Homo sapiens: one gene and its partners. The protein of the gene in region 4 purifies or fractionates together with the protein of the main gene of each other region. This does not show direct contact. Each region holds a gene or a part of one and is shown on either strand. Other genes may lie near its edges.

What was found.
Region 1: the proteins of LRRTM4 (region 4) and SGPL1 purify together in Homo sapiens (co-immunoprecipitation; 2 studies listed by BioGRID and IntAct, with this or other methods). This does not show direct contact.
Region 2: the proteins of LRRTM4 (region 4) and AP3B1 purify together in Homo sapiens (co-immunoprecipitation; 2 studies listed by BioGRID and IntAct, with this or other methods). This does not show direct contact.
Region 3: the proteins of LRRTM4 (region 4) and USP34 purify together in Homo sapiens (co-immunoprecipitation; 2 studies listed by BioGRID and IntAct, with this or other methods). This does not show direct contact.

Annotation. Positions count from the first base shown.
Region 1 is NC_000010.11:70,853,324-70,861,502, reverse strand, and holds part of SGPL1 (sphingosine-1-phosphate lyase 1), read right to left. Parts: intron 6,796-8,179; coding exon 6,648-6,795; intron 5,716-6,647; coding exon of another isoform or gene 5,683-5,715; intron 3,890-5,682; coding exon 3,813-3,889; intron 2,133-3,812; coding exon 2,004-2,132; intron 1-2,003. UniProt on the Homo sapiens protein: Cleaves phosphorylated sphingoid bases (PSBs), such as sphingosine-1-phosphate, into fatty aldehydes and phosphoethanolamine. Elevates stress-induced ceramide production and apoptosis.
Region 2 is NC_000005.10:78,109,163-78,117,341, forward strand, and holds part of AP3B1 (AP-3 complex subunit beta-1), read right to left. Parts: intron 7,073-8,179; coding exon 6,964-7,072; intron 4,762-6,963; coding exon 4,590-4,761; intron 1,193-4,589; coding exon 1,045-1,192; intron 1-1,044. UniProt on the Homo sapiens protein: Subunit of non-clathrin- and clathrin-associated adaptor protein complex 3 (AP-3) that plays a role in protein sorting in the late-Golgi/trans-Golgi network (TGN) and/or endosomes.
Region 3 is NC_000002.12:61,208,652-61,216,830, reverse strand, and holds part of USP34 (ubiquitin carboxyl-terminal hydrolase 34), read left to right. Parts: intron 1-2,136; coding exon 2,137-2,771; intron 2,772-4,901; coding exon 4,902-5,059; intron 5,060-7,853; coding exon 7,854-7,932; intron 7,933-8,179. UniProt on the Homo sapiens protein: Ubiquitin hydrolase that can remove conjugated ubiquitin from AXIN1 and AXIN2, thereby acting as a regulator of Wnt signaling pathway.
Region 4 is NC_000002.12:77,511,781-77,519,959, reverse strand, and holds part of LRRTM4 (leucine-rich repeat transmembrane neuronal protein 4 isoform a precursor), read left to right. Parts: intron 1-95; coding exon 96-1,642; coding exon of another isoform or gene 1,643-1,648; exon of another isoform or gene 1,649-3,302; intron 3,303-8,179. UniProt on the Homo sapiens protein: May play a role in the development and maintenance of the vertebrate nervous system. Exhibits strong synaptogenic activity, restricted to excitatory presynaptic differentiation.

The DNA of each region.
Region 1 (8,179 bases), on a different chromosome or scaffold from region 4:
GAGCGAGGGCTGTGAGGACTGCCAGCACGCTGTGACCTCTCACTACTTATCACCAGGCTCCAGCAATTTTCAATTTACAGCCAATCTTTCATCTACCCCCAACTGCCCCAGCCATCGTTGCTATTGAGTATCAGTTGTCCTAACAGTTATGCCTTTGTAGGTAATCTATTTTCTCTGGCTGCTCTCAAACACCAGTTAGATGTGTGTTAGCCTTCTCATCCTATCCTTTGCATCTCTTAGCCTCTCTTTCATACCTTCTATTTCTTTGTCTCTCTGGACTGCATTCTGGTTAACTTTTTTTTTTTAATCTGTCTTGTTCCATAAATGTGATTTTGGAACTATGTAATTATTTTACCTAGTTTTAAATGAACCAGGGCTCCTTGGATAAATGGCTGATTGAAGGCCTGGAGCAGGAAATGGACAAAGTGAACCTGAACCTGGAATATTTCGTCAAAAAAAAAAAAAAAAGGAAAGAAAGAGAAAAAAGGCTTTCAAAGATTACTTGGGTCATGTAAATGGACCTAGGAGCCAATATGATGTTTCCACTGGCCAAAGATGGATGAGGCAATTTGTACATCAATCTGAATAAGAGCTACAATGGATTGAGGCACACACAGCATTCCACAATTTATTCATCTGTGTCCTGTGGATAGGCATTTGAATTACTTCCAGTTTTTAGCTATCATGAATAACATTGCTATGAATATTAATGTCCATATATCCTGATATATATGTGTACTAATTTTTCTAGAGTATGTCCTAGTAGCAGAATTTCTGGGTCATAAGATATATGTATCTTCAAATTTACCAGATAAGGCCAAACTGTTCTGTGGCTATTCACTCTGGCCTCTTACAAGTTCTTCAAGAGTCTAATGGCATAGGAGAATATACTGTAAGTACATTATCATCTTCCCTCTGAAAGTCACCCTGTTCACCTCAGTACTCTAAGGGAAACTGCTGCTGTATTATGGGTGGTTCTGTTTTTAACAGTTTCAGTATTTTGCTTTGAAAATGAATGCCAGGCATATCACCTTTATTACTACTAATATTTGAACATGATGATTTTCATGGCGCCAACATATTAGAAAAACAAAACAAAAACAATGCTTCCTGGAAAAAAAAAAAGAAACTAAATTAGGTGCTCTTCGAATGGGCCCTTCAATAATTAAATCTGCAGTCTTTATAATGACTGCAAATATGATGAGTATCTGATAGGATTAGCACCTCTAGGACACCATTGCAGCATATTGAGTTAAATCTATCTATCCTACATAACCTGAGATTTCGTTTTTTCTAAAGACAACAGATCTAAACAGAAGTTTATCTATCATAGTTTACGAAAACTAACAACCATCTACTTGAAAGAACAGGTAAAACAAAGAATCCTCATGTGTTTCTTTAAATATAATGATGTCCTCCCCCTTTCTTTATGCCTAATAGCAACTAAATGAGGTTCAGTTTACAGCAAAATAATAAATTAAACTTTGGCTCAGGTAAAACCAGAAGTACACTAAAAACACTGCTGGATGGAACAACAAAAGTATACACAGATAAATAGGGGAATGGTAGGTATGCAGGTGGGGGATGAGGGAAGAAGCGGGTAGGGAGGGAAAGAGTGTAGAGAGCAGATATGGCAACATATTTACATTTAGTGAATCTAAGGTGTTCTTTAAGCCATCCTAGCAACTCAATGTAGGTTCAAAGTTTTTCAAAATAAAAAGGTGAAAATAAAAATATCTAGAAGAATATATACCAAAATGTTGACATTGTCTAGGTTACAAAATTACAAGTAACATTTAAAACTGCAGTTAATTAGGATCTTTCTACAATGATCAAATATTCCTTGTGTAGTAAAATGACCTTTCTACAATGATCAAATATTTCTTGTGTAGTAAAATATTTTTAATATTTTTTATTTTTTAAAATATAATTAATATTTATTAAAAACTCTTCTATTTTAACCTAAAAAATAAGGCTATTGGATGCCCCTTGCATATACTTACACATCCACACGAATCTGGTCCCCCATTGAACAGGGAACAAGCTATCCTCACGATTTCTGCCTCTATCTTGCGTAGTCCTGGGAAGATATCTGGATGCAGGGGGTTACTCCATGCAAAATCTCCATAAGCCTGCAAAAAAATGCAAGCAGATGTGAAATCAAAACTATTACACTATACAGGACAAAGAATCATGCACTAAACAACAGTTTCTAAGTATTAGGCACAACAATATAAACTGGAAAAAAAGATAAGATATATTCCTCAACCAAAAGATCAAAACATAGCAGAGGAGACAGACATGTAAATAAATAATTTTACAATGTGATGAGGAAAGAAGTATAAATATGGTTAAAAGCGCAGACTATAACACCAAACCGACCCAGGAGGAAGTCTAAGCTTTGCCTATTACTTTCAGCTGTGTAGGTCACATAATCTAAGGTTGTTTCTTCATACGCAGAAGTTGTTATGGTAGCTATCTTCTAGTGTTCTAGCAATAATTAAATAACATAATGCATGTGAAGCACTTAGTAGAGTGTCTGGCACAAAGCAGCTGTTGTTATCGACTGCAATATCAGGTGTGTGTACAGAGTGCTAAGGGACCCTGAAGAGGGAACAACTAACATCCTGAGTGATCTAGAGGTGTCTGCTGAGTGGAACTTTGAGAGATGAGTAGGAATCATCATTTGGAACAAGAGGAATGATGGAAGGGAAGGAAAACAACGTAAAAGCATGACACATTTAGTAAAGAGAAAAGGCAGGATTAGTGTTTATGTGGGAAATGAAGAGAAGTAGTTAAGAAAAAATAAGTGGGAGCTGGCTCATGAAGAAACTTGTATTCTCTGCTGCATAAGAACCTGAGTTTCATCCTGTAGATAATGGGAAGCTACTGAAAGATTTTAAGCACAGAAGATCAGAGCATTACACCAACTTATGCAAAACCTGCCATATTTATTTAGTAAGGGACAGTTTCATATTTATAATAATCAAACACAAAGACCTTAGAGATCATCAGTACAACCCCAATTTTATATGATGAAGTGGAGTTTCAAAAATAAATATGAGGGCCGAGTGCAGTGGTTCACAGCTGTAATCTCAACACTTTCAGAGGCCAAGGCAGGAGGATCACTTGAGGCTGGGAGTTGAAGACCAACCTGGGCAACAGAGTGAGACCCCATCTCCAACAAAAAAATACAAAAATTAGCTGGGTGTCATGATGCACGCCTGTAGTCCCAACTACTCAGGAGGCTGAGGTGGGAGGATCACTTGAGCCAAAGAGGTCAAGGCTGAAGTGAGCCATGATTACACCACTCCACTCCAGCCTGTGTGACAGAGTGAGACTTTGTCTGTAAAAATAATAAAATAAAATAAAAATAAATTTGATTAGAAATGGAAGAAGCTAAGAATGAGAATTATTTGAAGTATACATGAGACCACTGCTCATCTTGGGTCACATGATTTGAGAAAATTATGAAAGAGTTTCCCTATCTTATCTCTTCTTATCAAACAAAATCTGTCTCACCACAAAAATCTCATCTGACAGGACTACCTTCCCTAGTAATCTGCCTTCTAGACAGGACATCTGCAAAGACTGAAAACATAAATAACATTTTACTATTTTACAGACTGAAGATGTCTTTGATAATATTATACATATTCGCCTATGTTTGGGTGAAGAGAAACTTTTATGGTTTTATTGTACCAATAAGCTTTCCTTAAGTAATTTTTCTAATTACAAAAGTAAGGGAAAAAAAGGAGGTCATGTAAACTGGCACAGACCTCACAGGCTTCCCTCAAGAACTGGACACTCACCTTCACAAGGAGCTCAGTGAGCTTCTCCTCCCCACTGTACACTGTTCCAGAGGCTCTCCCCTCTTGCCAGAAGGCGTCTGCAGAGAAAGGTAAGGTCACTGGTCAGTAAGCAAGAATCTCTGGGAAGACAGGTTCTGATAAAGAAGAAACAGGAAGAAACTCCTCTGGATACAAAAGAAAAAAATGTTGAGTGGAAACCCAACAGCATTCTTATAGCAAATCAAGAAAAAAGTTCAATAGAGTTAGCACAATAAAATAAAGATGAAAAATCATTATTATCAGCAATGTGAAAAAGATATTAATAGCATTTAGCTACAATAAAGGCAATCTGATAATAATGTTGTCCTCATCCTCAACTGCCTTCTAACAGCAGGAACATTTGCCTTTGTCTATACTTATTTTTTGTTCTCTATATGGCTTTGGAGTGGCCTTTTTCTGCAATAGCTTCCTTCTTCTCTCCTTTCCTATCCAGTCCTAGGAATTTTGAGAACTATTATGAGCAGAGTTGGCAGAAGAAAGCAAAATGAAAAGTGTGAAATTTCAGCACACTATCATCAGAGATGAAACCAGCAAACAAACCACAATGAGGTATAAACCATGAGCACCCCGGTCTCAGACGCCGGCTCCCTTAAGCCAAGCCTGGAAACCCACATAAAACTAGTTACCTGCTTCCAGCAGCACACGCTGTAGCATATTCAAGATCAGGAACACAGTCAACATTGGGATAAACCTCCTTTATCCCAGTGTGGAAAGAAAAGTAAAGTTCCTGAGTAGAATATAAGATCTGACTTTCCACTTTCCTCTCTCCCCGAGACATTCTTCATTTTACCCACAAATTTGTTGATATGGGTGTCTCAGGTCCTTGTGCTACAATGCAGCTGTGCCCTATTGAAAGTGGGTAGTGAGAAAGCTATTACGGAAACACACCAACTAAAAACTGCATGGAGCCAAGGGCTCTCCAAAGCAAAGATCTTCAGCTCTTGAGAACAGAAAACTAAGTGGTAAATATACAGACAAACTCATTCTTACAGCAATCTGCCAAGCTCTGGCTTGCTGCCCGTTTGACTTTCACTCTTTCCTTAGAGGACACTGCTCTGTACTATACACAGCTTCAGACCAGTGGTCACCAGCCTTTCAAAAATAAGATAACTGGTTTCATTTCCTGTTCTTTTACTGATGCTAGAGAATACAGCAATGGACAGTGACTTAAACATTAAAGAGAAGGCAATATGATGGCGGCAACCAGGTCTCATAATCATGGAAATCTTTAACACCAGGTTTTAGAGTGCTAACCACTGCTTTATTCATCTACATCCTAGACTATATCAAATTTTGTACTATTCAATGTCAAGACCTCAACACATGTCACTTAGAAATTGTAAGGGTATTTGTCAAGGCCGAGCACAGTGGCTCACACCTGTAATCCTAGCACTTTGGGAGGCCAAGGTGGGCAGATCACCTGAGTTCAGGAGTTCGAGACCAACCTGGGCAACATGGTGAAATCTTATCTCTACTAAAAACACAAAAAATTAGCTGGGTATGGTGCCGCACGCCTGTAATCTCAGCTACTTGGGAGGCTGAGGCACGAGAATTGCTTAAGCCTGGAAGGTGGAAGTTGCAGTGAGCTGAGATCACACCACTGCATTCCAGCCTGGGCAACACAGTGAGACTCTGTCTCAAAAAATAAAAAATAAGGGTATTTGTCAAAATGCAACATGGCTCCTGGTTGGCTCCTAGAATAGAAAAAAGAACATTAGTTTAAAACAAAACATAGCAAAACAAAAAAAAACCCTGATGAACTAGAAATAGAATTTGTAGTGTAGTTAATAGCACTGTACCAATGTTAATTTTTTAGTTTTGATAAACGTACCATGGTTATAGAGGATGTTAACATCAGGAGAAGCTGGGTATAGGGAAATCTCTATCATCTTTGCTACTTTTCTGTAAATATATCAAACTAAAAAGCTTCTTTTTAAAAAGTACTTGTAATATGATCTTAATCAGTAACAAACATAAATCTGTTTGAGTTAATAATAGCAATAATGTTTAACATTTACTGAATCCTTACTATATGCCAGGCACTATAAAACATTTATACATGTATGATCTCATTTAATCCCCATAATCATCTTTTCAGGTAAGTACTGTACTACTATTACTATCCCCATTGTAGAGATACAGGAACTGTGACATACAGAAGTAACTCGCCAAAGGCATACTTTAAGTGGCAAACCAAGGTATGAATCCAGGCTGGTTCCAGGGTTACGCTCTTAAGCACCAAGCTATTTGGTCTATTTATCCATCCCATATGTGCTCATGCATACATGTGTATACACACAGACAAACACTATTAGCATTCTCAGAAACAGACAGATATACATATATAGATAGATGTAAACTATATAGACAGCTCTACCTATAGCTACATGCATAAAGATAGACACCATCTGTTTATCTTTGATAGTGGAATTATAGTGACTTATTTTCTTTTGTGCCTTTATGCAGATTTCACATTTTTACATGGATCTGTATTTCATTTGTATTACATATCTTATATTCTCTCTTCTTAAACACAAATATATTTGTTTTATTCATGCTTACAAAAGGAAATAAAAGCCAAGTTCCACTGTCTCTGAGATTTGCTTGCTTTATGGATGAAGGATGAATCTAAACATAATTTTAAAAATAGGAAATTCAACCTGTGAAACAGAGAGTAGGCCCTCCTAAACATGTATTAACCAATGATGAGTTATTCTTAACCTATGTGAACATTAAACAATGACAAAACCTGTCTCTTTAAGGAAGTAGAGAGCATGTATATGCCAAGCATCATACCCATAGAGCTGTACTCCTTAAGTTTCTCCAAAACAGCAGATGAGCTCAGACCCTGGGAGGGTAAAGCTTTCACATACTCTTTGTCCACTTTCAGGAATGACATGTTCTTGCTAATATCATCCTTGGTCTTGTTCAACTTGTCTTGAATCTCCAAAGGTAAGAAAGACAAAGTTATCCAGATGCAAGAGTACAGTAGAGACAGCAGAATTATTATGACAGTCAAGCAACTGCTCAATGCTAGGCACCGCACAAGTAACTAAACTAACATTTTTCCTAAAGATATATGGTGATATTCTGACTGATCAGCTACTTTCTGGCATGTACAATAGCCTCTTAAAAATTTGAAAAGCGAAGCTTCTCTCTAAAGGTCAAGATGCACTCAGCCGGTCGCGGTGGCTTACACCTATTATCACAGCTCTTCAGGAAGCCGAGGTGGGCAGATCATTACAGGTCAGGAGTTCGAGACCAGCCTGGCCAACATGGTGAAACCCCATCTCTACTAAAAATACAAAAATTAGCCAGGCATGGTAGCAGGCATTTGTAATCCCAGCTACTTGGGAGGCTGAGGCATGAGAATCACTTGAACCCAGGAGGTGGAGGTTGCAGTGAGCCAAGATCACACCACTGTACTCCATTCAGCCTGGGCAACAGAGCAAGACTCTGTCTCAAAAAAAAAAAAAAAAAAGTTGCACCCAATTTCCCCATAACCCTTTTCTCTGCCACATTGACATCACTGCTGCTTCACTTGGTTGGCATTGCTAAAGTCAGCACATCCTTGAGGGCAGTATTTGGACTTTGATCCTGCCTTGGCAGCAGCTACAGTGTGTGTGTAAAAGAATCAAAGGTATAACTAGGAACAGTGGCCAGAAAACTGGCCATGCTGCAGTAAAAGTGATTCTGGTCCTTGTGCAAGTGATGAGCTCCTTCAACAGACATACACGCAGCACACTAGGAATTTGGAGGTCCCATTCAACACTAGCACAAGGCATTCTAAGAACTGCCAGGAAGACTCTAATGTATCTCCTTAAGCTGCTGTCGACAGCTTGCACTGTCTGACCCCAAAATATTAAAAGGAACTAAGGTCCTTTCTGCTAGGTAGTTTATCAACTATGGTTCCCTTCTTTTCCATCCTCAAAGCCACAGCTTCTGAGCTGTTTTCTTTTATTCACTTACATATTCACATTCATATTCACTGCATATTCACAAATATGCAGGCCAGGGACACATAGTGAACAAAACAAACTTAGGCAATGGAGCACACAGGAAAAAAAACCTCCTGTCCTCATGAAGTTTATTTTCAGCAGGAGAGACAGAAAATAGTAAGACAGGTAACAAAAAGTGCTGAGGGAAAAAAAATAGCAGAGTAAGGAGGCAGAAGGGCAGGGGCTGCTGCTTATAGCAAAAGGCTCTTGGGTAGTAGGTTTGGGGAGAGAAGCTACATGTCACGATTTGTCACAGTGCTATTGTTTCAGCAATATATTTGTTAAAGAACGCCAGAACTCACTCCACACTAAGATTTTCTCATCTCTAGC
Region 2 (8,179 bases), on a different chromosome or scaffold from region 4:
AATCTCAGGTTATTTTATATACAGACACAAGTTTTAAATATAAATTCAAGTTTAAGATAGGTTTTAATATATGCAAGAAAATGTGAAATAAGGCAAGACAAATACTAGCCAATTTTTAAAACATTCTTTAACAATAAATCTCTGGATGGGGGAGGGCAATTGTCTACTTCAATAAATTAATTTTCATCCTTGCCTACTCAGATAACATATTGAAGAGATTCCAGTTAACAGAACAAATAAACGAAAACAATATTGGATTAAGAAGAAATTGAACTGAATCAAAGGCAGAGTTTGGCCATATTTTCAACAAACAGAATAACACAGTTGTATATAAAAATACTATACTTGAAGTCTAGCATGAACATGGTCCAGTTATAGGAAGGGGGTGATTATTAAAGACCAAAAAGATAATTATCGTTAGGTCTGAATTCTATATTTTTATTCTTTTAACTAGACTTGAAATCAGATAGAATACATTTTATATTAATAACTATATTTTTGCAATTTATACTTTATTTTTTTCCTGCTAAGCAGGCAAAATTCAGTGTTAAAAATGTTATTACCAAAAAGCATTATTATTTTATTATATAAGTGGTTCCATTTGTTTTTAAATAAATGGCTACGCAAATTCTTACTAACTAAAGAATGTATACTCTTTAATTGAAGCCTTAAAACACACTCTATTATGCAAAATGCCCAATATTTTTAAAAAGTGAATAGTCTCAATTTCTTATGATGTATGTACACTTATAATTCTTTGCTCAATACTATTTTTGTGACTTCCTTTCACTTCCCCTTCAGCAAAACCCCCCCCTTGTCACAACCTAGCCAAGAACAAAAAAGGTCATATGCGTAAGAGTTCCTTGATTTCAGTGGCAAGGGATGAGATTTTTTAAAGTTTCTAGCATTTCTGCAGAGTTGGGTTATAAGGGAAAGGCTTATCTAGAAAAAATAAAATCACAGGAGTAGATGAGGATGGTGTTGTCTATTTTAGTTGCTATAAGAATATTTACCTTCAATTACAACAAATGTATAATCTCTTACCTTAGTGACTCTTCTGGATTCAGATTCACTTTCAGGTTCTGACTCTGATTCAGAATCGGAAGAACTGTCTTCTATTGAACTAGATTCGTCATTTGAAGAATCTGAAGTTTTAGATTTTTCATTTTCCTTCTCCCCATCTTCAGAATCACTACACATAATAGTAAATTTTGAAATATGAACTTTAACTCCTTTATATAAGCAGTTTATAAAAAAATTGTTTTTAAATTCCAGAATACATTAATGAGGTAATAAAAAAGGTATTACCCATAACCAAATAAATTAGAACCCATTCAAATTCAATTCTATCCTGTCATACAAATTTCAAATGCAAAAAGTCATAAAATGACACTAAACAATATAATCAAAAGCAATGTAGAAAACATTAAATGTTTGATTTACCAAGAATTAAGTACTACCAGTAACAACGTTAAAGATATTTAGGCTGATTTTTTAAAACGCTATCTCAAAATACTGTGCCTGTGTGTGTGTGTGTGTGTGTGTGTGTGTGTATGTATGTATACATACATGTATATATATACGTATATACATATATATTCATGTATATATACGTATATATATACGTATATGAGACAGGGTCTCATTGTACAGTGGTGCAATCACGGCTCACTGCAGCCTTGACCTCCCGGGCTCAAGCGATGCTCCCATTTCAGCCTCCCAAGTAGTTGGGACTACAGGCATGCACCACCACATCCAGCTAATTTTATATTTTTTGTAGAGACAGGGTCTCACTAGGTTGCCTAGGCTGGTCTGGAACTTCTGGGCTCGAGTAGTCCTCCCAACTTGACCTCCCAAAATATTGGGATTATAGGCTTGAGCCACCACACCTGGTTTAGTAATATATTTAAATATTTATATATCTACTTCTGCTAAAATAGACTTGTATTTTATACATTTTCTACCCAAGAAAATTACTTACACAAGTTCCCAAATGTGACCTTAAACACATTCTATGAGAAAATGTTAACCAGTTCAAAGGAAATTCTTCTAAAGTACTATCTTGCTAAAAATTTAAGCTAATCAAATATAAACTTTTAAAATATCAAATGATCATACCTAAGTGCTTAACACCATTCATTTGTTCACCTGCTCAACAAATATTTATTAATTATTGACTACATGTTGGCATTATGCTAGGTGCTAAGGATAACGATGGTTAGTAAGACACAGAGGATCTCTGTGTGTCTACCCTACAGGGTCTACGGTCCACTGGAGGATACAGATAAGGTTGCAGTGATAATACAGTATAATAAGTAATAAGTAATAAATTATAGCGTGTCAGGAGAACATGTGGAGAGACACCTAAAAAAACTTGATCCAATTAGGAATGCTTCCTGGAGAAAGAGACATATAAGCCAAGATATAGGAGTAAGGCTGGCAGATGGGCAGGGAAACAGTTCTCCAAGGAGAAGGAATAACATGTGAGATGACCAAACACCCTTCTCTCAGGGGATGACAAATGCCTTGTGGTGCTTTATATTTTCCTGGAAACTAAAGGTCTAGTTCTCTCTACCACATGTGTGTGTATTTTTTTAAGAATCTACTGTGGGCCAGAAAGGGCTAGGCACTTCATACCAATCATACTAATTATCTAATTTAAATGCACTCTTCCTGGGTACATTATTATCCCATTTACAATAATGAAATTAATATTTAGAAAGGTTAAATAACCTGCTCAAGGGCACATAACAAGAGGGGCAGAACTAGAATCTGAACTCAAGCCTGTCTCATTCCAAAGTCCGTATTTTTTCCACTATGTCATACTATCTCCCTTCAAATGAAAATACCTTGGAGTGTAAAATTTAAATTTGGTCATAAATATTTATGATTACTAAAGGGTGGTTTTTGAAGATGTTTAAAGCTTATTAGGAGCTTTAAAAAATTATCATACTGGCAAAGTTAAAAAAAATTCTGAGACAGAAAAATACAGGGGGAGGGAGAGGAGTGAGACAAGGAAAGAATCAATATTTCCTAGAATTGATTTTTGTGGAGGAAATATGATTGCTATTTATTAAAAATGGAGCCATGGTAACATCTCAGAGCACATGTAATTATATTTGAAGACTGAAAAATATGTTGTTGTTTTTCCCTGGCAAAAAAATGGCAATTTATTATCCCCAATTCACTGGTTAAAATGTGTACTTAAAAATATAAGGTTTAGAATGTATTTGTGGTTCTCTTTGTAATAAACAATTCTTTTAAATTCAAACATGGGTAAAGAGAAAAATCCATTTCTGAAGAAAAGAATAATAAACCTAATACATGACTACAAATTTTGAGTATACTGACTTTTGCCATCTGAAAGGACATTTCATGCACTGAACAAAACTTTCCCTTTCTAGAAACAGGACATGTTTTATAACTCGTATCATCATAGACATGCTGATATTAAAGCAGAAGTACAGGATTTCTCTCAAAGACAAGGCTATTATAAACCAAGTAGCTCCTTTGCTGCAACAAGTGAATGATTCTAAATATATTCAACTTCTAGCTTTTAAGATAAGATTTTAAAAGTAAAAGTGTTATTTTATTATGCATCACTCAATTTTGATGGTAATTATTGTTTACCTTACTGCTTAGAGTTTCAGATGTTAATCTAATGAAAAGAATTTACTGGTAACTAGGTTTTTAACTTTGCAATGATGAAAAGCCTGTATTAATTTAACCTACAGATTTCATTTGTTCTGAACAGGAAAAACAATATAAATCACTTTTAAAATCATTAAATCCTGACTTAAATTAATAAAGTCATAATTAGGGCATTATGCTGTGTTTGTTATGGAAGTGGCAGGGAGAGCTGCTTTAATTACTGTCTGTAATAAAAGGAGCAGAGAGCGTACTGCGCCCCAATCAGTGCTGTCAGCCACGACTGAGCCGGGCTGCAAGCTCATCAAGTGAGCGGGCAGCAGGCTCCCGGGGAAAGGACCATCATGTCGGCAGAGGCCACTCGCTGACAGCAGCGGGGAAAACAGAGTTGCACAATCCAAGATATTAGACCCAATTACTCAAAATTTTAATGACACTTTAATACATGATAATGTTATTGATAATGGGAGATCTTAAAAAGTGCTAACACTTAAAGATCTTATGACCGTCTTCCTTCACAGCCCTTGACTCTAATATTTGGATCATAATCTTTTTAATATAACATTATTTAGAAAAATCAATTGTCTTGGTTACATAATGGCAAAGTGTTGAAGGATTTAATTTTAGCCCTCAGCAAAATCGCTACAAAAGGTAATTAAGTGTTTCATACCTATTGCTTGATCACTTAACTCAGCCTTCCAAGGTTATACCAATTTTCAAAATGTAACCCCAAGATATGTTCAAGTTCAAAATGAAAGCTAAGCATTACAAGTAGGAAAATAATGTGAACAACTAGCACTTTAATTTTAAAAAGATTTAATATCTGGAAAAAAATACACACTTTTTTTCTCTCACCATTTTTTGATTAATAAGAAACATCTCTGCCTGGGGCAAACTTTCACAGAATATTTTTTGAAGGAAATTCTGACAAAATAAGTTACCTTTTTCCTTTGGCTTTTGAGTTCCTCTTGGCTGTTCTTTTGTTTTCTAGGCCTGACTCCCGTCCACTCTCACTGTCCTGCTCACTGGAGGAGTCCTCACTGCTGTCCTCATTGCTGTCTCCTTCCTCCCCACTTTCGCCTTGTTCTCCACTTTCACTTCCAGATTCACTCTCTGAAAAACAGAACCAGATGTTCTTAGATTTATAGTCATTTAATTAGACACACGGACACCTGTAACTGTCAATATTCATCACAAATGAAACCAGATGTTGAATTTTAGTTCAGTGGACACCACTTGTTTAACATTTTATTCCCACACCCCATTCTTTCAGCTCTATGGATTCCTTTAGCACTGTGAGCTTGGAGGGAGGCAGACAGAGGATGCTCTGACAACGAGGAGAGAAAAGCTAAGCAAAGGTGAACCAAGTAAACCAAATTTGAGGGAATCTCACTTCAAACCCCAAAGTATATAGCTATGTCAAAAACTTTCTTTTAAAGAATTACGTAAGGATTGATGTAAGGCTAAAGAAATAATTTTGAATTCTTCTGCTTGTAATGGGAAATTCTATTTAGAGTAAAAGAAGGCAACAGTTGAATCTTCTTAGGAACAAATTTTGAGAGGAAAATGAGCCATTCAAATCACTTGGAAAGACCTCCAAATTCAAAGACAATAGGCAAAATGACTAATTAAAGAGTTATTACTTATTCGAGCTAGTAAACGAGTTTTCCATAGGTCAAAGAGATGATCAAGTTACACTGAGGAATTATACTTTTAAATGTTTTATGTGTAAATTATGGTATGCTAGGACTGTTCGCAGAAGAGAATACATGAAGAATATATGTGTATTTTTTAAGTGAAGCATAATTTTTACTATTTAAAATGACTATAACTACAGAGTTGTGTCCCAGACAAAAGGACAAACTGTTGCCCTGCCTGTGATCTATGTAACGAAGCCCTCTTAGGCAGGAACATAACCTTTAATTAAACATTCTAATGGTTAAATAATACCAACATCAGGAAGGTCCATCACAGTGAAAACCTAGGACTGCCTGTATTGTTTTAAGACGGCTTACAAGGGGTACAAGCATGGGTTCTCAAGTTAGTGTTCGGATTCAGATCCTGGCTCTTCTACTTGCCAGTTGTAAAACTGAACAAGTTATTCAACTTCTCTGGGTTTTGGTTTCCTTTTCAGCAAATGGGGATAACACTAGTTACTTTTCAGAGCTGTTGTGAAGATTAAATGATTTGAAACATACAAAGGAGATTAGAACACAACAGGGTCTGCCACAGGGTAAGGCACTCATCATTATCATCATTTACAAACAGGAAAGTTTATTTTACTAAAATAAAGCTACTAAATAAGGACATTTTAGATTTGTGGTAATATCCAAGTTACACGCACATACATATTAAGTCAGATAACTGGCTTATGCTATAAACAATGAAAGAAATTACAGGTAATGTATCACAGATTAATTTATCAGATACTAAAAACAAAGATTTTTGATAAGGAAGACAGAGAAAAGAAGAGTGAATTACCTTACAGTAGGGTAGCAGATAACCATGTAAGAGTGACAGGCCCTGGTTCTCCAAGGAATAAAGATTTTAGAGAAAGTTGGGTGTCGTTTGGTCTTGGGTCAGATTTGCCTATTAGCTTAAGTGTTAATAAGAGCATCAGAAAGTGACTACAATCTATTTTTCATTATGCAAATCACTCACAGAATTTTAGCAATGAAGGGACTTTAAGAAATATTTAACTGTACCCCTTCATTTATCTGATATAGAGAAAAGTAGGTGCCTTATTCAATTTGCATAGGTAAAAGCCAGGGCCTCTAAATCCTTCCTATTAAGCATTCTTTTCACTGCATATAGTTACCCTCAACCTTTAGTTTGATTTTTTTATAGTATATAGAGACTTAATAATTTTAGCTTTATCTCTATAGAGGTTCACAGAAAGAGATAAGTATAAAATGAAAGAGAAAAAGACTCTTCAAGGTATAAAATAAACTTTACGTTTTTGTAAAAGAAAGTTACTTTTAAAGACCCCACTAAAAGTTCATCAAGTGTAAAATTATGTTTTTCAATAGATATATTAGGCATTGTGGTTTAGAATTCAGAAAAGTATGAGTTCCTGTTTCAGCTATACCAATGTATCAGCTACTATCCAAGAGATATTGTAAAGTAAAAAGAGAATTTAGTAATTAAAAATTACTTTGAAAACTAAAGAGTGATATATAAATGAAAGGGATTATTTTGATAATACAAACTTCACTTAAAACTACCTGCTGAATATTATGGATTAGGCCTTGTTTCTGAGATATAGAATGTAATCTACTATGTAAATAATATATGCCAATAAATTATAAAACCCACCACTGTCACTGCTACTATCAGAAGAGTCCTCCTCTTCCTCAGATTCAGAATAAAACTTCTTAGCAGAATTCTCTTGCTTTGCTTTTCCTGCTGGGGTCCATTCTTTTGCCTGTTTAAACAAATAAAGTAAATATAAATGAATTCTCATTCAGAGATTTAGAGTTCTGGCAAACTTAATCATTAACAACATAACTGAATTCAAAAGCAAGCTTAAGGCCTCCACAGGGAATGCAACTGTTAGAAGTCCTGGCATTAAGGCTGATTCACTTTACTCCTAAATACAACAACACAAACTCTCACTCAGAGGCCCTATGTTAAACCAACAATCTTATTTTAAATATACAATTTTTAAAACTTTTGTGTTTTTTGGCCCACAGAAGATTTAAACAAAAGTAATATATCCTAAAATAGGTGAGCGAAACTAGAAGCAGATACAATAACAGCAATAACAAACACAAGTTGATAGCTTGACACTGAGGGAAAAGAGAGAAAAAAAAAAAGAAAGAAAAGAAAATATTTAGTGTAGGCAATAAATTGCCCTAACCATCTCAACAGCCTAAATCCTGGAGTAATCCTTGACTTCTCTTTTTTTCTCATATCCTAAACATCTAAGCCATCAAGAAATCCTGTAGCTACCCTGGTCTGACCCACCCTTCTCTCCTGGACTACTCGTTACCTTGCTTCTACTGCCCCTCCACCCTGCCCCCAGCAAACAAACTTTGCAAAACACAGCATCTAGAATGATTATATTAAAACCTAAATGAGAGCAAGCTCCTTTTTGGCCTGAAACCCTGCAGTGGCTCCCCATTTTACTCAGAGAAAAAGCCGAAGTCCCTACAACAGTCTGCACAGCCCAATACAACCATCCTTTCATGACTGCCCCTCCACAACTGTCCCCGTCGCCTGCCTCTCTCACCTCTTGCTGCTCACCCTCTTGCCTGATCTGCTCTGGCCATGCCTTACTGTTCCTCCAAACGTCCCAGGCATGCTCCCAGTTTAGGGCCTTCACCCTAGCTCTTGGCACTTCCAACACCATTCCCCACCACCTTTTTTTTTTTTTTTTTTTTAATCACAGCATGTATTACTTGTTAACATACTATACAATCTACTTGTTTTTTTAACTGTTGGTCTATCCCTGGTAGAATGTAAGTTTCTGGAGAGCAGGGAATTTAAAATATTTTGTGCAATTTTTTTTTTTTTTTGAGACGGAGTCTCG
Region 3 (8,179 bases), about 16 Mb from region 4:
TTCTTGTGCCTCAGCCTCCTGAGTAGCTGGGATTACAGGCACCCGCCACCACACCCAGCTAATTTTTGTATTCTTAGTAGAGATGGGTTTCACCATGTTGGCCAGGCTGGTCTTGAACTCCTGACCTCAGATGATCTGCCCGCCTTGGCCTCTCAAAGTGCTGGGATTACAGGCATGAGTCACCGTACCCAGCCAAATGGTTTTTTTGTTTTTTGTTTTTTGTTGTTTTTTGAGATGGAGTCTCACTCAGTCACCCAGGCTGGAGTGCAGTGGCGCAATCTCGGCTTACTGCAAGCTCTGCCTCCCGGGTTCACACCATTCTCCTGCCTCAGCCTCCCGAGTAGCTGGGACTACAGGCGCTCACCACCACGCCTGGCTAATTTTTTGTATTTTTAGTAGAGATGGGGTTTCACCATATTAGCCAGGATGATCTCGAGCTCCTGACCTCGTGATCCGCCCGCCTTGGCCTCCCAAAATGCTGGGATTACAGGCATGAGCCACCGCACCCAGCCGCCAAATGGCTTTTTTAAATCGTAAATTACTTTTCTTGATTGAAGTTTTATGCAAAAATTGATCAGGATGATACCTACATGCCAGGTTTTTATATTTGAAACACATAACAAACTGAGCCTTAAAAATTCTGACTAAGCAGACTAGTATATAGGTAAAGAAATATCTAGAAAATGGAGTATTGTGCACAAAGTTTAATTTGGAAATAAATTTGTAAAATAAACTAAAATTAATTTTAGAAACCCTAACTTTGTTTGCTTTGACAATACAATGGAAATTATCAAGTTATAGTTAGAATAGGGGGAGACAAATAATGGTTGTCCTGAAAAGAACCCAAACTCAGACATTAGAGAGTCTTGAGGAGGTTCCATAGTGAATGTTAGGAGCATTATTAGCCTGTGAATCTGATTGGCTGGATTTGAATCCCAGCTCTGGCCACTAGCTGTGTAAGCTGAGATAGTCCCATTGTTGTAAGCCTGAGTGAAAGTGGGGATAATAAATGCAATGCCTGCCACATAAAGTTATGACGTCAAATAGTATACATTTGGTAAAGGCTCACAATTCTTATTATAGTTATTACTATTATTGTTTTACCATTATCATTATCATCATCATTGTTTCTCAAGGCAAAATCTAGCCTCCACCTCTTTATCTGTGTGACCTTGGTCTTTGCTTCTCCAAGATTCAGATTTTCCAGAGCACTGTTACCTCCATCCAGGGTCATTGTGAGGATTAAATGAGAAGTTTATACAGCACCTAGGTCAATGCTTTGTTGATAGTAACTGCTTTTACAGGTTAGCGCAACTAATAAGTCACTAACTCCTCAGCATTATAACATAGGCTTAATAAGTTTAACACCAAGTTCTTTCCTTGGGTGTAAGTTTAGCCTTAAAAGACTTCTAAAGATTTTCCAAAGTTAATGTTCTGTAATTAGCATATATGTAATCAAATAGGACTTTTATGTATATCTCATTCTTTCTTTATAACTTAAATATATATTATCTGGTTACAATTTAACACCCAGTTCTTTCCTTTGGTGTAAGGTTAGCCTTAGAAGACTTTTAAAGATTTTCCAAAGTTAATGTTCTATAATTAGCATATATGTAATCTTATATATTGAACTTTTATGTATATCTATTTCTTTCTTTATAACAAGTATATTTTACCATATCTGTATGTTATTACAAAGTAAATTATCATTATTTTTCAATTAAGAAGAAAACTAAGACTGTAGAACATTGAATGATTTGACCTCCTCAGGTACCTTTTGGTAGGTCTTCTGACTGCAAATGCTGGGTTCCCTCTGTTAAATCATACTACTTCCTGAGAAGAAATAAAAGATAAAGTGGGAAAATTCTGCATCTTAGGCAAGCTAAAGAAAAGTGGTTTAAAAATTATTGCCACTTCAAAAATAACAATGGCAGAATAGAAGGTATCTATTTTTATCACCTCTTGGGATCTTTTTGTGGGGCCAAGGGGAAAGCAGAAAGATACTAAAAGAGATGTTCATGTCCCTTTTTATTCATTTTAATTATTAAAGGGAACAGTGGCTTTGTGATTAATGACTGCTGTTCAGTCTATTTTATATCTTACAAGGATCTGACAGTTTTGTTTTACATTTTATAGCTGCAGCTTATCTTCTGGTGTCCCTTATACCAAGCAATTCATTCCGTCAGATGTTCCGGTCAACAAGGTCTTTGCACATCCCAACCCGTGACCTTCCACTCAGTCCAGACACAACAGTAGTCCTACATCAGGTCTACAACGTGCTCCTTGGTTTGCTCTCAAGAGCCAAACTTTATGTTGATGCTGCTGTTCATGGCACTACAAAGCTAGTGCCCTATTTTAGCTTTATGACTTACTGTTTAATTTCCAAAACTGAGAAGCTGATGTTTTCCACATATTTCATGGATTTGTGGAACCTTTTCCAGCCTAAACTTTCTGAGCCAGCAATAGCTACAAATCACAATAAACAGGCTTTGCTTTCATTTTGGTACAATGTCTGTGCTGACTGTCCAGAGAATATCCGCCTTATTGTTCAGAACCCAGTGGTAACCAAGAACATTGCCTTCAATTACATCCTTGCTGACCATGATGATCAGGATGTGGTGCTTTTTAACCGTGGGATGCTGCCAGCGTACTATGGCATTCTGAGGCTCTGCTGTGAGCAGTCTCCTGCATTCACACGACAACTGGCTTCTCACCAGAACATCCAGTGGGCCTTTAAGAATCTTACACCACATGCCAGCCAATACCCTGGAGTGAGTAAAATTGATACTCTTTTATCTGTATCCTCAAATAGATTGGAAATACCTGTTTTTCCCCTGGTGGGAAGTGGTGGCAGAATATAGAATAGTCTCACCATTCTTTCTTAAGAACTTAATGTGTATTTGTTTTCTTAAATACATATATAAAATGCTGTGTTGTTATAAAATTGATAACTGTGTAGATAACTTTTCTTAGGGTGAAGTTAAAGTTGCATATCCAGTAAAACTTACCTGTTTTTTAATTTGTGGTTTTGTAAATGTATTCTTCATGTGTGCCTAATGAAAAAAGCCAGCTTCATGGTACAGTTTTAAGGAATTGAGTACTTTGCTATTTAAAAATCAGATACTTAGCAAAATCTACATGCTGTGGTAAACTGTGAGCTAGACAATTTTATATCTAAAACTAGTAGTATTCCGCAGTATTTTTTCTCAAGCTGCATCCAAACAAATGAAATGCTTAAGAGATCAATCGAGATACATATATATGCAGTCTAAATTGGGTCCCTTTTACTCTGCACACTTACTTGTAGGTTTTATATTAAGTTTCCTCCCCTCGATGTAAAGCTGTCAAACCTGGTTAATAACTTTTCACTGTTGCCTCTTATTCTCTGTTGTAAACTGTACTTTAAAGACAGACCGTCCTTTATAGACGGTCTTTTTTTTTCTAGATGGTGTAATGAGTTGTATAGAATCTCACACCTGGGAAGAATAACCTAATTTCTAGTCAGAGAAAATTAGAATCCCAGGCCGGCATAGTGGCTCACACCTGTAATTTCAGCACTTTGGAGGCAGAGGCGGATCACTCGAGCCCAGCAGTTCAAGACCAGCCTGGGCAACATGGCAAAACTCCATCTCTACAAAAAATACAAAATTAGCTGGGAGTAGTGGTGTGCACCTATAGTCGCAGCTGCTTGGGAGGCTGAGGTGGGAGGATCGCTTGAGCCCAGGAGGTTGAGGCTGCATTGAGACATTGTACTGCACCCTGGGCAACAAAGCAAGACTCTGTCTCAAAAGAAAAAATCAGAATCCCTACAATGCAGGAAAGAGAGTGAGTGTACAAGTACCAAGAAATTGAAAACCAATGCCATAAGAATACAAAATATCAATCTTTCTGACTTCAAAGGGGTCGGGATAGGATTTATTAAGTTTCAGTAAATTTGTCTCTATCATATTCACATAAATAATATTTGATCTAGTTACTAGATGTGATGTCCAGAATTAAATATACTTTGACAAGTACTAGATGAGTTAGAATTTATCCCTCCATGTTATTTATTGCCCTTGACATCAGTGAAATGTAATGTCTTTTATTGTAGAATGTCCTTATCTATTAGAAATTTTCATGAAAATGGTACTTAAGTCAGTTTTTTGCTTTGAAAAATAAGAAGCTGGGGGTTTCAGTTCATTGACAAGTATGTGTTAGAAGAGCAGTCCTCTCCTGACATGTGCATATGAGTCTATAAAATCACAGCTAGTGATTTTACTAAAATATTTGTTTTTACTTTTTATTCATCAGGAAATTGAACTGAGCATCATTCTAGAAAAGCATTTTAAATGTTGGAACAAAGGTTTACCTCATATACACTATTAATTTAAGGGTTATTTAGGCATTTAAAATCTTTGTGACAAAGTAATGATTTCTCATTAATTAAAGAAAAAGTGGATAGGAGATGGTGTGGCATGCCTCTGGGTTTACATTTGAAGTTACAAAAGTAGTGCTTTAAGCAGTAATAAGACTAAAAATGAATTGTATTCACTTACAGTTTTTACTCTTTCTAAACTTGTATTTTAAGATTTGTTGAGTTCTTTTAGTGTTTATTATTATTGTTATTATTTGTATTTTAGTAGAGACAGAGTTTCATCATGTTGCCCTGGCTGGTCTCGAACTCCTGAGTTCAGGCAATCTGCCCGCCTCTGCCTCCCAAAGTGCTAGGCATCAGCCACTGCGCCCAGCCAAAATTTTTTAAATAGAATTTGTTACTGATTTTATAACTTTCTGAATGGAAGTATAATCTAGCTTATTTGTATAATTTTAAGAGTTGATTAATGAACGTAGAAATGAGAAACTGACCTTCTAAAATGCTATAGGGTTAAAAGATCATATGGCTTATTTGGCTTTTTTAGGCAGTAGAAGAACTGTTTAACCTGATGCAGCTGTTTATAGCTCAGAGGCCAGATATGAGAGAAGAAGAATTAGAAGATATTAAACAGTTCAAGAAAACAACCATAAGTTGTTACTTACGTTGCTTAGATGGCCGCTCCTGCTGGACTACTTTAATAAGGTAAAAAGATGTTTTTAGTTTTGTCTTGTTTATTTCCAGTGAGATGAGGACCATCCTTTTGATGTTTAAAGATAAATCATTTACATTGGGGAAGCATTTGTGCATGTAGCCACTTTGGAACATTTTGAAGGTTCATGAACTACTTTTAAACAGTTTTTGGTCTGGCTTTGGTTTGTATTTGTGTATGTTTTATCATTTTAGGGTTGAAGGGAACCTTTATGTATAGCCTTCTACCCAAAGCTTGAATAGTCTTGTTTATGGCAATTTATCCTAACTCAGGCTTGATAGTTCAGTTCTAGAGGCCTCCAGGAAGTTTTCTGCACCTTTGGATGAGTCTGTTAATATTTTGCATTCTGTTTAGCCCAAATATATCTATCTGGCTTTCTGATCTATATGACTTGGCCAAAATTATAAAACATAGTCTTTATAATTAATTTTCAGAGCTACAGAAGTTATTGAATGGTTACAGGAACTACTACAAATTACCCTTAATTCCCCTTAACCTAGAGAAATAAAGTTCAGGCTAATTTCTTAAATTCTTCTATGTATTACATCTAAGACTTGGAAGTGTTGTTTTTTATTAGGCACATTTTTTTTAATGGTACTTTACTGAAGACTTCACTGTAATATCTTAAGCTACTCAATCTAAGATGAGGTTATTTCAGATTGTCTTCTTTGGAAAGCTTTCAAATGTGAGTCTTCATTAGTAAACAGGGAAATTAACTACGCCTTTGCCGGATTTCTTAAAGGGATTGTTTTTAAATTTTGGATTAATTTTGAATACAATTGTTTTCCCAAAGTTTACTACTTAAAGCTTTATTTCAAAAAAGATTTAGAGCAGCCTGGGCAACATAGTAAAACCCCATCTCTATATAAATAAATAAGTTAGCAAATAAATTAGGGTGTGACGGCATGCACCTGTAGTCCCAGCTCCTCGGGGGGCTGAGGTGGGAAGATCCTTGAGCCCAAAAGGTGGAAGCTGCAGTGAGCCATGATTGTGCCATTGTACTCCAGCCTGGGTGACAGAGCGAGTCTCAAAAAAAGAAAAAAAAGATTTGGAGCTTTCTTAACTCTTCTTGAAAAAGGAAAGGAATAAAGTAGAAGGATTTCCAGTTGTAGTCTATAACAACATTTTTCTGGTATCTAATGAAAGAAGACCTGTTAACAGTAATATAGCTGTGTGAGTAATTATAGTCATGTGTTGCATAACAACAGGGTTACATTCTGAGAAATAAATTTTTAGCCTATTTCATCATTGTGCAAACATCAGAGTGACTACTCACACACAACTAGATAGTAGCGCCTGCTACACCCCTAGGATATATGGTATAGCCAACTGTTCCTAGGCTCTAAATCTGTATAGCATGTTACTACACTGAATACTGTAGGCAATTATAACAGAAAGGTAAGTATTTGTGTATCTAAACGTATTTAAACATAGAAAAGGTACAGTAAAAATATGGAATAAAAGACAGAAAATGGTACACTTGTGTAGGGCACTTACCATGAATGGTGCTTGCAAGACTGGAAATTGCCCTAGGTAAGCCAGTGAATGAGTGGTGAGGGAATGTGAAGGCCTGGGACATTATTGTACCCTACTATAGACTTTATAAACACTGTACACTTAAGCTACACTAAATTTATTTTAAAATACTTTTTCTTCATTATTAATGTACTGAACTTTTTTTACTTTATAAGTTTTTTTAACTTCTTGATTCTTCTATCGTAGCACTTAAAACACACTATCATAACACTTAAAACACACATTTTATAGCTGAACAAAAGTATTTATATCTTTATAAGCTTTTCATATTTAAATTTTTTTTCTTTTTAAATGTTTTCGTTAAAAACTAAGACATAAACACACACAATTAGGCTAGGCCTAGCAGGGTTGGGATCATCAGTATCTCTGTCTCCCACCTCCACATCTTGTCCCACTTGGGAGGTCTTCAGAGGCAGTAACTAGCTTAGAGCTGTCATCTCCTCTGACAATGATGCCTTCTTCTGGAATCCCTCCTGTAGGGCCTGTCTAAGGCTGTTTTACATTTAACTTTTTTTGAAATAAGTAGTAAAATAATGATAATATAGTAAATACATAAACCAGTAACATAGTCATTTATTAACATTATCAAGTATTAGGTACTGTACATAATTGTGGTATACTTACAAGACTGGCAGTACAACAAGTTTGTTTATACCAGCGTCATCAGAGACATGTGGGTAATGCATTGTGAATGTTACCATGGCTATGAAGTCACTAGGCTAATAGGAATTTATCAGCTCCATTATAATCTTATGGGACCACCATTGTGTTTGTGATCCATCATTTACCACAATTTCATTTTGTGGCACATGACTGTATTTTATAAACTATTTTCAAGGCTGACACGTTTTTAGTATTTTTTTCCTTCATGTTACTCTTTTTTAATTACCAGCTGATGAGTGTTTAGATAATATGGTGAATTTTATGATTATCCAGAATTTAACAATCAGAAGATGAGCCTATTATAAAAATCAACATTGTTTATGTGGAAACTTTAAAAATATTCCCATATCTTCTGCCATTGTAGATAATTAGCAGTTGATTAGATATTAATAGACTTTTTTTTAGTTAGAGTTTATTTAATATTATTTCCTTATGCTGCATTTCCAGGAAACAGATGAAGCAGTCTCTTTTCTGTAGGTAGGAAAGCAGAGAGCTTAAATGATGATTTTATTTCTTTTTATTTTTTCATCACCTAAGTGTTGTGTTCTTATTCAGACTTCTCAAACTGAACTTTATGTTTTCTTCTAGTGCCTTCAGAATACTATTAGAATCTGATGAAGACAGACTTCTTGTTGTATTTAATCGAGGATTGATTCTAATGACAGAGGTAAATATTCTATTGCATTTTACTGTGGATATTATCTCATTTTAATGTTCTCACCAAGACTTACTTTATAGACATTTAGAGTTTATGGTAAACTGTTTTACAGGTGGCAAGGTTTTAATTATATAGATCAGTAAACCTGAATTTATATCCCAAGAATAATTAGGTCATAATTTTTAGGGTGCTGTTCCTTTTTCCATAGTAATTCCATACTTTTCCCATTATTTTGTATTTAGAACAGCCATTTGAA
Region 4 (8,179 bases):
CTACACTAGAGGAAATGCCCCTGTTGTTGGTAAACCGACGGTGATTTATTTTAATAGCTTCACAATGTGCATCTGTCTTTTTTTTAATATCGTAGGTTTCCATTTAATTACGCAGCTGAAAGGCATGAGTGTGGTGCTGGTGCTACTTCCTACACTGCTGCTTGTTATGCTCACGGGTGCTCAGAGAGCTTGCCCAAAGAACTGCAGATGTGATGGCAAAATTGTGTACTGTGAGTCTCATGCTTTCGCAGATATCCCTGAGAACATTTCTGGAGGGTCACAAGGCTTATCATTAAGGTTCAACAGCATTCAGAAGCTCAAATCCAATCAGTTTGCCGGCCTTAACCAGCTTATATGGCTTTATCTTGACCATAATTACATTAGCTCAGTGGATGAAGATGCATTTCAAGGGATCCGTAGACTGAAAGAATTAATTCTAAGCTCCAACAAAATTACTTATCTGCACAATAAAACATTTCACCCAGTTCCCAATCTCCGCAATCTGGACCTCTCCTACAATAAGCTTCAGACATTGCAATCTGAACAATTTAAAGGCCTTCGGAAACTCATCATTTTGCACTTGAGATCTAACTCACTAAAGACTGTGCCCATAAGAGTTTTTCAAGACTGTCGGAATCTTGATTTTTTGGATTTGGGTTACAATCGTCTTCGAAGCTTGTCCCGAAATGCATTTGCTGGCCTCTTGAAGTTAAAGGAGCTCCACCTGGAGCACAACCAGTTTTCCAAGATCAACTTTGCTCATTTTCCACGTCTCTTCAACCTCCGCTCAATTTACTTACAATGGAACAGGATTCGCTCCATTAGCCAAGGTTTGACATGGACTTGGAGTTCCTTACACAACTTGGATTTATCAGGGAATGACATCCAAGGAATTGAGCCGGGCACATTTAAATGCCTCCCCAATTTACAAAAATTGAATTTGGATTCCAACAAGCTCACCAATATCTCACAGGAAACTGTCAATGCGTGGATATCATTAATATCCATCACATTGTCTGGAAATATGTGGGAATGCAGTCGGAGCATTTGTCCTTTATTTTATTGGCTTAAGAATTTCAAAGGAAATAAGGAAAGCACCATGATATGTGCGGGACCTAAGCACATCCAGGGTGAAAAGGTTAGTGATGCAGTGGAAACATATAATATCTGTTCTGAAGTCCAGGTGGTCAACACAGAAAGATCACACCTGGTGCCCCAAACTCCCCAGAAACCTCTGATTATCCCTAGACCTACCATCTTCAAACCTGACGTCACCCAATCCACCTTTGAAACACCAAGCCCTTCCCCAGGGTTTCAGATTCCTGGCGCAGAGCAAGAGTATGAGCATGTTTCATTTCACAAAATTATTGCCGGGAGTGTGGCTCTCTTTCTCTCAGTGGCCATGATCCTCTTGGTGATCTATGTGTCTTGGAAACGCTACCCAGCCAGCATGAAACAACTCCAGCAACACTCTCTTATGAAGAGGCGGCGGAAAAAGGCCAGAGAGTCTGAAAGACAAATGAATTCCCCTTTACAGGAGTATTATGTGGACTACAAGCCTACAAACTCTGAGACCATGGATATATCGGTTAATGGATCTGGGCCCTGCACATATACCATCTCTGGCTCCAGGGAATGTGAGGTATGAACCATGATCCTCCTAAAAGCATTTCTACTGCGGGGAAGGAGAGGTAAATGTTTGAAGCCCTAGAGGTGTCTCTAATCACTAGAAAGATTAATGACCCTTTTGCTTTTGGGTTTTGCTCAGTGTGAAAGGTTACTTAATTAAATTACAACCACCAGGAAATTGACTGCTTTTTTTTTTTTTTTAAATGGTTGAAACTTGAAGGAAGTTCATTCAAGGATAAGTTGGAATAAAGCACTATGTTAAAACATCTGCTTTTTAACAATTTGTATACAGGGGTTGGACTTAAAAACACACATACAAACAAAACTCTTTTCATTCTGAAATTTCTGTCTGGTTCTTGGTGTTTGACTGTTGTAATGGAGTAAAGAAGAGGGCCAGCTTAATTTAAAAATAAAGTGAGTTTACCAAAATTCCAGAAGGTAATGAAGATTTAAACCAAAGAGCAATTTTCCCAAGGGTTGATTTTGTTGTAAATTTTTAGTTTTAATGAAAGCATGCAACAGGGATCTCACACCCATGTTACTTGCCATTTAGTTATTATACCAGCATAGAGAATGTCAGAGGCCTACTGTGTAATTGTATCAGGCTCCTAAGGCTTCTTTCTTTTTTTTTTTTTGTTTCCTTCTTTCCTACTTTCTTTCACTCCTTCCTTTCCTTCCTTTCTCTTCCTTCTTTTTTTGTTTGTTTGTTTGTTTTTTAATTACTGGGATATAGATCCGATTTCAAAGGTTTTTATGCACTGGCTATTTGTGTTTAATCAGAATGAAACTTCAATTCCATGCTTTGGCTTTGTCCCTGGTAACTAAAATCAGGTCACAATTTTGTGGATGATTTAGCAATAATAAAATGGCAGTCATAACAGGGACTGTTTGTCAGTATTGCTGTCATCCCCAAAAGAAATGATATGTATTCTTGTTAAACTTATTAAAAAATAAGTGATACAAATATTTATAAATAAAAGGAGAGAGGTTTGAGTTCTGGGTATCCTCCCTTTCTGTAACAGCCTCAAATAAAGGTGTACCTTCCATGTTATATTATTTTTGTTTTTATAAGAATAAATTTGGACCCGGTTTCTGATTATTTAATTTAAAAGATCACTTACAGGATCATGTTAGTGAGCAGACAAATAGTCACAAATTTCAAACTTGTCAATAAGTAATGCTGGATGTAAATTGTTCTTTTCTTGGTAATGTTGATCATTATGTGCAAAGACTGACTACTAAGGCCTTGTTGCTGGAAGAAACTAGTGAAGAGAGGTTAAATTCTGGCAATATAATGTTTTAGTATCTGATTTTAGATGATCACTCTTTCAAAAGACAGTTTTAATGAGTAATTAAAGATGTTGCCCTTTCTAATGCTAGTTAACAGTTGGAAAATATAATTGCTCTTTGATAGCATATACTCCAATTTTTCCATAGTCCTAACTACAAATGCTAATGAAAATGTTTTCAGACAAAGCACTGAATTTGAAATAATCTCTAACTCAGTACAATTTGGACTATTGAACTGTTCTTCAAAGAATTCATTTTCTTCTTTTTTGTGTATCATTGAAAATAAGAGAAGTAATCCCAGATAATAAATTCCTAAAAGGAAACTGTATAAGCAATTGCCCTTAAAAATTAAAAAGAATAAAAGATTTTCTATAAAAGTCTAACAAGGCTTGATGTTTTTATTGCAGGCCCACAATTATACAATATACTTGAGTATTAGTAACACAAGTTCATCCTATTTTATTCTGGGTTCTCCTTATATTTTGTGATCCTCTTAAAGGCTGGTATATAAAAAGAAAAGAAAATTCTAGACGCATTAATTCATTTTCTCTTGACTTTTGGAGTAGAATGCTAACTTTTATGTTTAAGAATCACCAAGAAGAAAGAAACATTCTTAAAGAACCAGGATTTGAGAACTGGGGTTCTAAGACTTTTCCAGAGATCTTAAATTTCACAGATTATTCCATCAAAAACCCTAGGCATTACCATGACAGAAACAAGTTTAAAAGATGGTTCATTTAATTAAAACGTGTGTTTAAATAAACACATTTTGATATTGTATGTGTTATATAGATTGACATTTAATGTCATGAAATTGCACTAGTATTGTTGAAAATGAATGTGTTGTTAAGGCATTAAGTAATGAAGAATGTAATTAAATATTGTAATAATTCTGTTGAGTCAAAATGGAATCCTTACTAAAGTAGCTCAAACTTTCTGTGCCCTCAAACATGGACATTAGTAGGCTATACATTTAAGATCATATGTCCATTTAGGATGAGGAGGGGGGTGCTATAAAACTATATTTAAATGAATTTCAACTTGTTTTAAAACGAAAGCATACAAAAACAAACATTGCAGGGGTCACCCCATTTTTTGACAGAATGTTTGCTGTATTACAGTTATAGGTAGATATAAATGGTGAGGAAAAGCAAACTCTTAGAAATTGTTATAGGGAAAACCCTAATTACTTCTTACTTCTTTGTCACTCGGAGTAAAATTTCTCCTGTTGAGAAATATTCCTTTGGACAAAATCTCTCTACAAAATAGAGCCAAGAGAGGGCAGCGATTTGCCCAACTTTACAATGTTTTTGGAATAGTATAAGTATGCTGAGTTTTAGCTTGGCATTGTTTTCATAAGTCTCATATATCACTAGTTTAGCAGAGAACCATTAATATATTTATAAGACATTTTTGTGAGGTAGGTTTTTTTAAAAAAAAATTAAAAACACCAAACTCTACCCAATAAAGCCATAAATATTTAATTGGAAAACTTAGCACCAAATGCTAATTTTCTAAGATAGTGCCTTGAAGAAATAAAAATTGCATTAAATTAAAAACTCTACTTTCCACCTAACTTTATATTCAGTTACCATGACCTAAATATGGTTACAATATCCATTTTGCTTGTTTCTTTTAAAAGGATTTTTTAAATTGAGATTATTAGATTGGCGTTTGTGAGCCTCCACACAAATATAGCATGCAATTTTCAAATTAAATAATTTTCTCTATGTTTTGCAAGTTTTAATTCTGAAAAGTCTGTGTGCACATACCATTCTGATAAAATGAGGGATAATATTTTAATAATTTGGGCAGTAAAAATTGTTCATATCTATAAAAGAGAAATAGAGTAGATAGTTATGAGTAATTAATATGAATTATAGCACAAGTATAAGGGATACATACATCCTAATCATACTTTGAGTGGATCAGTGTGCTTGGTTGAACTGAATCATTCACTTAGTACATACATCCTCAGTATGTACTCAGAAAAGAGAATTTAAAGCCAAAAGGATACAGCTTTTCCTAAAACAGTAAGGTGTTACTATATAGACAGGAAATGCAAATATTTACTTTGAAAAATAGCTTGTGAAGCTTGGCATAATGTTATCTCATTAAAAAATATGACCAGGGATATAAAGTTGCTTCATTCTGTATATCAATTTTTTCCTTCGAAATTGTAAAGAACAAAGTTTTGAATATCTAGTTCTTCTAGGATTTGTTTTATCAACTGAAAGTAGCAGCGGCCTTTATATATTAGCCAATGTGAACAAAGGACAAGAAAGAATATTTGTAGTTTGTTTTGTACATTAAAAAAAGTTAAATTGGTGAAAATTTAAAATGAATGAATGTAGTCTCTAAAGAGACTCTCCATCCAAAGTGTTTCAATAGTTAAGTAATTGAAATATAAAGTTTAATGATCCTATAGTGCTAACAGTGCTGCTATTAGGAAAATGGCAGTAAAGGTGACAATATAGGTGTATATTTTCCAAATATTTAATATTTTCATTACTTTCTTCAAAATTGAGCAAAATTTTAAAAATATACTGGTTTTCAGTTCAGGTTATATAATTTCTTTGACTGTTATGCAGTGGGTGGTATAAACCATTTCTAACAACTTTTATTTATGGACTATGTTAGGTCAGGTTCAAACAACTGGTATAAAGTAGACCACTTAACTTCTTTTCACACTTTAGATATTGATATTCTTCAGTGTGCTAAGTGAATTTCCAAGGACTACTAAGCATAATGTATATATAAAGAGGACTCTAAGGAAAGCAGACCCAGTTACCTTGAGTTTAATTAACAGTTTATCGACATACAGCTATAGAAAACAAACTTTATTTAGGTGGCTGACTACAACTGTGTCATGGTACAATGTTATGATTGAAACTGTATTTGTATATTTAAATAGGATGTGTGTGTGTTTGTATGTGAGTTTATCCATGTATGTATGTCTGTATATATATATGTGTGTGTGTGTTTGTGTGTGTGCATATAAAGACAAAATAGAAACATATTTCCATCAGAATTAATGTCCATCAAAATTAATTAAATTTTTTTACGACAATTTAAATTATTAGTAACAAATATTTGTTAAAATCACCAAGATTTTTTAGTTAGGAATATGGCCCTTAAGGTAAATGTATTATCATATCTGAAAAATTATAAGTATCGTCAGGTGCAGTGGCTCATGCCTGTAATCCCAGTAATTTGGGAGGCCAAAGTGGGTGGATTACTTGAGGTCAAGAGTTTTAGACCAGTCTGACCAACATGGTGAAAACCTGTCTCTACTGAAAATACAAAAATTAGCAGGTCATGGTGGCGCACAGCTATAATCTCAGTTACTAGGGAGGTTGAGGCAAGAGAATCGCTTGAACCCAGGAGGCAGAGGTTGCAGTGCAAGATTGCACTACTGCAGTCCTGCCTGGGCAACAGAACAAGACTCATCTCAAAATAAACAAATAAAATATAAATTATAAGTATCTTACATCTATGTAGTCTAAAATTCTTTTTCAAAAAACAAAATTTAACATAGTCAAGTCTGTATTTGTACTACATATTGCCATTTTTTGTGTTGCTTTAGACTTGTCACTTCGTTTCTCTGTGACGCATCTCTCAAACGAGTGACTCAGCTAGCACAGTGTTTCCCAACACAAAGCAATTCTCGGATTAGTATAAAGTTTGTAAAGTCTCTATGGTCATTCTCAGAACTGAAAAAGCAGGATGAGCTGTGGAGAAAAAGACTGAGCTACTTACATTCATTTGTCAATGAGAAAAGAAAGAACTTCTTCAGTTACTAAAAACTGGGGTGCCCAGGTGAGCAGCCATACAATTTCTTTATGCTTGAGGGGAAAATATGTAACTCACGCATACACATGTGTGAGCACATGAGTGCACACTCCCACACACGTATATGTCTTTGAAATTCTGCTAAGTAACTAGATATTTTGAAAGCACTTAAAACTATGTCTGCTTTTTAAAAAATCGATTGTCTGAATTAGGTCCAATTAAAATCTATTTGTGAATAGAGTTTTCATTAGAATTCACAAATGGTAGTGGTGAAGAGTGACAGCTGCCAAAAAAAGACCGACATAGCTAATTTAGGAAAGATTTTAAACTGACAATAAATGGCCCTTTTCTTTTTCTAGAATTAGCTGGTATTAGCATCTCACGGACAAGGTTTTCATAAATGATTGCTCTTGAAGACTCCCAGCTGAGAAGTCTGTGGTCTTAGGAATGTGTAGCTTTTGACACACCCCAATAATATCCACAGGATACCAGAATTTCCTTCTTGAGACTTTTCTGTGTTTATAAAATGTAATCATCCCTAGTTCTTCTCAGGAATTGCATTTAGAGATAGTTTTATGCTTTAGGAGTTGCTCAGTAATATTTTCACTGGGGACTTGGTGACTCATCTGAATTTTCATGTCTCTAGAGTTTCATGATTCACTAAATCAAAGTGAAGCAGAAGCAACCTGTATATCACTAGACACTGAGAGTTTTGAAAAACCAGTATGTCTTTTGATCAGTGAAAAGCATGAAGTGATGTTGAATACATTTTAAAAATTAAAATTGCTTTTTATAGTACCAGAAGAACCATCATTCATTGAGTCAGTTTAATAAAATCTCAATATTCATGAAAGGAAAAAGAAATTACAGGGCTATTTTTCTCATGCACTCCATAAGCCATTAAAATTGTAACTGTAAGGTAGGAAAGGTTGAGAAAAAAAGCACAGTATTTCCTAAGGTATCAAAACAATTGGCTTTTTAAATAAACGTCTGCTAGAAGCTGCTAGATATGTACAAAGACTATGTATTTAAACTCCTGCTAAAGAGTTTAAAAATAATGCTATCACTGCCAAGAGAAATTAAAATCTAAACAAACGTAACCATGGAAAATTAGTCCTTTACAAGGGAGGCCAGGTAATATGGTACACCTGTAGTCCCAGCTACTTGTGAGGCTAACGTAGGAAGATCGCTGAAGGCCAAAAGTTCGAGGTTGTCCTGAGCTATGTTTGAGCCTATGAATAGCCTCTGTGCTCCAACCTGGGCAAAACTAAGACGCTGTCTCTTAAACATACAAATAAAAATATATGAAAGCTAACACCTTAAGTTTACTTACGTAAGGTTTGTAAACATAGGTTTGAGGAATGAAATGACAGCAAAGTCATTTGATTTAAGGTCATAAAGTTTGACCTTAAGTCAAATCTATACATTATAATATTGTAAACATAAGTTTGGGGAATGAAATGACAGC